2 separate regions of the Homo sapiens genome follow, and region 2 is linked to region 1. Evidence: fine-mapped expression QTL. A gene starts in region 1. The other region holds a variant in brackets. All regions are shown on one strand. Distances are between the middles of the regions.

Region 1 (2,906 bases):
GCATTACTTTCGTGCTTGACACCCCGACAACCCCGCACCCACCCCCCGACTCATTTTCCCCAAGCCAAGTCGCTCATAGGGGACAATCAAGCCTTAAGAATAGAGCAAAAATAAAGGCCCTGGAAAGTTGGACATGAAGCTTTAACTTCAGGAAAGGAATGGTATTCTATTAATCGTCCAGCTGGTCTGCCCTTAGGGTGTCAGATGTTCTCTGTCGCCCCTGGTGTGCCAGCATTGGCCTGGGTGCCACTGGGTGGCTGATGGCAGAATGTGAATTCACTTGCAAGCGGACATGTTCGTTTCCATGCCCCAAAGCGGGAAGAAGAAGGGCACAAGGAGACTTCGATGGTTCTTTCAGCTCAGACTCGAGCTGTGACTGATTTGCTGTTTGGGGTCACTGGCTTTCTAGCCTCTCCTGGCACCACCCAATTTCGGGGAGCAGCCAGCTCATCTTTCTCCTACGACAATGTCTTCTGTCCCCCATAAACACTGCCCTCATTTTGAGTTTTTCTTTCCTATGTCTGTAGCTTTCTTCTGCCGCTCAGCAAACACTCTGTCCCACTCGTATTCGTCCCTTGGCGCTGGCGTCTGGCCCAGGGGTACACTGTGAAGGAGGGCAACCCTAGATTCTGAGGGCCCTAGCTCGAATCTAGCGCCCCTCTAACTGCAGGGGTGACCTTAGATACATTTATTAACTTCCTCTGTAGACTCAGGGGAACAACTTTGGCACTCCTGGGGTCCCTGGATTAATGAGGTAACTTACGTAGACTCCCTAAACAAGCGTCTGGTTCATTGTAAGCGCCCAAATGCCAGGGGGCATCTGCAGGGATGACCCCATAGTGAATGAAAACTGCCTCTTGGGGATCTCTGGGTTAAACGGCCAGAATAAATCGCAGAATTGAGAGAACCCTCTCCTGCCCCAAACCTCACTGTACTGTAAATCCCATTCATTGCCTCCCGCCGTTTTATCCGTGTTCTCAGACCACCCCCCTATCCCCGCAACCTCCAGTCCCCTAAAGCCTCCTGGGCGGCAAAAGGACGCCCAGAGAGAGGTTCGGCGCCTCAGTTGCCCCGGAGCAGACGTCCAGCCCCGCCGTGTACCCGATTGCGGGGCGGATCGCGGCAAGGCGGCGGCGGCCGGCAGAATAGGCGCGGAGGAAGGCTCAGGCGGGGCAGACTGCGTGGGGGAAGGAGGAGGAGAGAGCAGACGGCGGAGGAGGGCAGAGCAGCCGGGGGGAGGGCGCAGGGGCGGGAGGAGACACATGCGCGCTGCCGCCGCCGCCGCCGCCGCCGCAGTCCTTAGCTTCCCGGGGACAGGAAACCTTCAAGACCGAGCTGCCACGGCCGCCTCCCCGCCCGCCCCCCATTCTACGCGCCTGCCCACACCCTCCTCCCCTCCTTCCAGCGCCTTTCGGTGGAGCACTGCGGCACTCAGCCCGAGCTGCCGTTTTCCCCTCGCGGGGAACGCTGTGACCCCCCCGCAGGAGCGGCGGGGCGGGGTGGGGGGGCCCGGGAGAAGATGGCGACGCCGGGAAGCGAACCCCAACCTTTCGTCCCGGCCCTTTCGGTAGCTACTCTGCACCCACTTCATCATCCCCACCACCACCACCACCACCATCAGCACCACGGAGGAACCGGCGCCCCCGGCGGGGCGGGTGGTGGCGGCGGTGGCAGCGGGGGCTTCAACCTGCCCTTGAACCGGGGTCTGGAGCGCGCGCTTGAGGAGGCGGCCAACTCCGGGGGGCTGAACCTGAGCGCCAGGAAATTGAAGGAATTTCCCCGTACCGCAGCCCCCGGGCACGACCTCTCGGACACGGTGCAGGCAGGTGAGTGAGGGCCGAGGGGCGGGCAGGGGTGTGGGTGCTGTCTGGGTGTCTGTCGTGCGTTCCCTAACGCGGTGGACAGTCGGAGATCTTGTCTTGCTGGGGGAGGGAGGGTCCATCGGCCCGTTGTCTCCCGAAGAAGGGACTCGCGTGGGCGCGGAAGAAGCGGGCCCTGGAGAGGGCACGGGGGCCCTGCCTGGTCCGGCGATGCAGTGCCAGGAGGGCAGGGGTGCGCCGGGCCTCTGCGCCTGAGAGCGAGGGGTCTCCGGCTCTCCACCCTGTGGCTGCCGCGCCAGGGAAGTAACCGCGGGGCTGGGACTTGCAGGCGCGCCGCGTGCGCGCAGTGTAAGTGGGAGGTTTCAGGCGGCTGTGTCGGCTTCCTGGGCCCCGCGCAGGGCTGGGAACTCCAGCGCGGACAGCGGCGTCGGCGCCTCCAACCAGTTCAAGCCGTCTTTGCATCGAGGCGTAGCCCATCCTGGTGGGGAAACCCAGACAAAGGTGGCACGCCCTCGGCCGAGCCAGGGGCATCGGCGCAGTGCCGCGAGCCCCCTCGGCGACATCGCCGAGCGATCGGGCAACTCGGTGCCGCCTGTGAGGTGCCCAAGTTTCCTCTCCCTGCGCTTGTGCGGGAAAAGAGCCGCCGGGCTTGTAGTGAATCCCAGTCGGCTGCCGCTTCGGAAGCGATCGGCCCTCTTCCTTCCGTGCCTTTTGCTCACCGCCCACACAGTTTGGGTCCTACCACCGAGGCTACCTGGTTCTCAGTTACCCAACCGTTGCGGGGGCCCCAGGAAAGGACGGCGTGGCATATTAAAGGCAAAGTAATTAACGTGAGCCTGTTTTCCTGTGTGAGCCCGGCAAGTTGTAACTCGCGCCAATAAGCAGCATAACTTTTTCAAGTTACGTCATGTGTTACATACTTCTAAAACGTCTGCTTTCTCTTTGGTAGTTGGAGTTCCAGGAGCGGGATCTATAAACAGGAAGGAGGGTGGTGGAATAGGATTGGGGCCTTAGGGTCTATACAGAACTGACTTGGTTTCCGGCCATCCGGTTCCGCTCCCTGGGGGAGGGTTTGTGTCATAGCAA
Region 2 (2,906 bases), 42 kb after region 1:
ATAGCAAGTTATGTAAAAAATACTACTTGCTGATGAGGTTTGTAAGAACCTCCTAGAACCTTATAGAACAAGTGTGGAATACTTGTTTTCTGCTAAGGGCTATTGACCCCAAGAAAATTCAATGAAGCGATCTTTGCAAAATAGTAAATGATTTTTCTTTGTCTCCCTGCAGAAGCAAAGAGGCTTAGACCTCTAGCCACTGTTGAATGCACCAAATCAGGCCACCTCCTTGAGCTACACAGAATGTTTGCATTATAGGATAGGTGCCAAGTGCCCTGGAAGGTTGGTGGAGAGAGAGATGACTTCCAGCTGAGATTGTACAGTAGAATTTAATATTTAAAGTTTCTCGATTTGACGGGGCTGAATTAGTTCATATGAGTTCATAAGTAGGAACTGCTTCGCTTAATTTTGGTGAATAAAATATCCTGGCTGCAAAATACAAAAAAGAAAGTCACCCTCATTTTCAAATGTATGGTTAGTGCTTTCCATAGAAAACATATGGCTAAATGTGTGTGTTTTTTTAATTTAGCTCTGAAATGTGAAGACTGTAATAAGATCTAGTAACAAGAGCGCAGTTTAGAAAAACCTGATTGACTCTAGTTTATGTAACTATACAGGCTATATAAAGAAAGTCTCATAAATGAACTTCATCTAAAGAGTGTGGCAGCTATAACCTTCTCCAACTTTCAGGCTCTGGGTGTTCTCCTAGCTTCTTCTGAGTTTATAGTCTTTATGTAATTATTAATACCATGATGATCATTCTGGGGTTTGCTTTTTGCCCTGGTCACTTTAGGTTTAATTTTATTCCATTCCTGGTCATTTATAGTTTTGTTCTGTCATCTCCCCATACCCATCGAGAACCCTATTCTCCTGTGGCAGACTTTAATGAATGTAACCGCAGATTATGTGTTTTCTTTCTTTGGTGAACTTAGAGGATGCATAGGCCAGGTGCCAAGTGTTAGAAGAAACCATACCTTTCCTGATGGTGCTGCATGGCTAGCCTACCCCGACCATGCAGTAAGTGACTTCCTCACCGCTGATGTGGCAGACCTGCTCTGCATCTCCACAGGGTTTCTGGGTTCTTTTCCAGGCTGTTTCCATATTGCACACTCAGACTGGGTAGGAAAGCAGGCAGGGCACAGTTTTATATGTACGTCAGCATTTTCACTTGGTGATGGATATAAGCTAACTTTTGTAGCTCTCCTAGGTTTATTACTGACATCTGTTCCCCCCTGAGCATATCCAGCTGGGGCTGAAGCCACATCTGCACTTTAAACTTCCATCTACCTTTATGTTTTCAATGTAATTTTAGATTTCATTTGTTTTTAATTGTGAACTCAGAAGAGATGAGTTCCAGCTATGACTCAGTGTGAGTTCCTATGTCATAATTCTACATTTCTGGAGTGCTTACACCTGACAGGAATAAACTCAAGGAAACAAAAAGAACAGGAAAGGCCTTAGGCACATACTGGTTGTTCTAGATGTGGAGTTCTGCTGGCAACTGCCACAGAGTGAAATTGGCCACATGGAATCCAAAGCACGGCCTCACATTGTTTTTTTTTTTTTGAATATTTTATGTAAGACAGGGATGTTAAAGGTAGAGGAAGTAATTAAGAATGGCAGCTATGTCTTTAAAATTAAACACATCGGTCATAACTTTAATGAAGG[T/C]GTAAAAGTGTTTTTAGTTTTAAACAGGCAAAAAGGCTTTTAAATACAAGTAACCAGTTTTGAGACTTTAAAAAGCAGAAGTTTTTCATGCCAGTGCTTCCTATTTTAGTTTCAAAGGAAAGGAGGAGGAGCTGAGGTTTGGATGGTTATCATAGATGAGGGAGTTGACATGATCAAAAATGTTTTTTTCCCTGGGAACACATCTTGAGTGCTTATCTCTTCTAATAGATAAAGGGCTGGTGAATTTTGAATGTTTCCTGCAGCTCTGAAGAAACACTGTGATCCTAATGAACACCGAGGAAAGCTTGTATTGCAGCCCTAAATATTACCTGCTTCAAGGAGGCAGCATGTTTTGGTACAGTCTGATCATGACTATAAATCAAAGCATCTTTACTTCTCCAGGGAGATAAAAAAAATCATGTGTTACTTTATAAGGATCTTGTAGTTGCAGTATGTCTGTCAGATGTTTCCATTTTTATGATTTAAGACACTTGGTGCTGCTATGAATAGCAAATTGGAAAAATTGGGCATTTTTTAAATTTTGAATTTTATCTTAGCATATATCTGGAAATGAAATAGCGATCTTGGAACAGAGACATCTTTGTTAGAATATGAAAGAATGTCAGTGAATTCTAACTTGAAGCTACATTGAGATGACATGTTAAAGGCATGAATAGACAAAGGGAATGATTTTCAGGAAGTGCCTTCTGGAGACTGTGGGAAATCCCGTCATGGGTAGAGGAACAGCTTGCGATTGGATCAAAGTCACGCAAAGTTACGCAGGTGGTAGATGCTGGTAGTCAACATGGCTAGGTCCATGGCAATCGATCATTTGCCCAGCATTTTGCCTGCTGAATTTGGGGGAGTGAAGAGGACATTTTCACCACCCCAGGAAGATAGTAACTAGTGCTCTATGTATGTAGCTCAGAGCCCTTGAATTTTCAAGTGACCTTTTAAAAGTTTCCCCCAGAAAGGTTTGAATAGACTTCCTATCTATTACTCTAAGTTTAGGTCTAAGAAAATTCCCAAATGGGTTAATACAGTCGATCCTCAATCTTTGAGAATTCTGTATCTGTGAAATTGGCCTACTTGCTAAAATGTATTTGTAAGCCCCAAATCCATCCGTGAGGACTCTTTGTGGTCATTGGTGGATATGTACAGAGCAGCAAAAAAATTTGAGTAGCTCAAGGTACACGTACCCGGTGGAGGTTGAACAAGGTGACACTCTGCCTTCTTGC

Evidence for each region. PIP is the estimated chance that this variant, and not a neighbour inherited with it, causes the effect.
Region 2: its variant is the best candidate, but not a certain one, in a credible set for the expression of LRCH1 in whole blood (GTEx, PIP 0.85).

What each region holds. Positions count from the first base shown.
Region 1 is chr13:46,551,878-46,554,783 of GRCh38, forward strand. It overlaps LRCH1 (leucine rich repeats and calponin homology domain containing 1), which reads left to right and starts at 1,293. Exons shown (of 20, transcript NM_001164211.2): 1 at 1,293-1,826. The coding sequence starts at 1,520. RefSeq lists silencers at 1,237-1,426, 1,487-1,546 and enhancers at 1,750-2,450, 2,107-2,426.
Region 2 is chr13:46,594,315-46,597,220 of GRCh38, forward strand. The region is part of intron 1 of LRCH1 (leucine rich repeats and calponin homology domain containing 1); the gene reads left to right. Among named protein-coding and RNA genes, the nearest start is that of LRCH1, 43 kb to the left of the region's middle. RefSeq lists a silencer at 1,073-1,122. The variant T/C (reference allele first, on the strand shown) is at 1,669.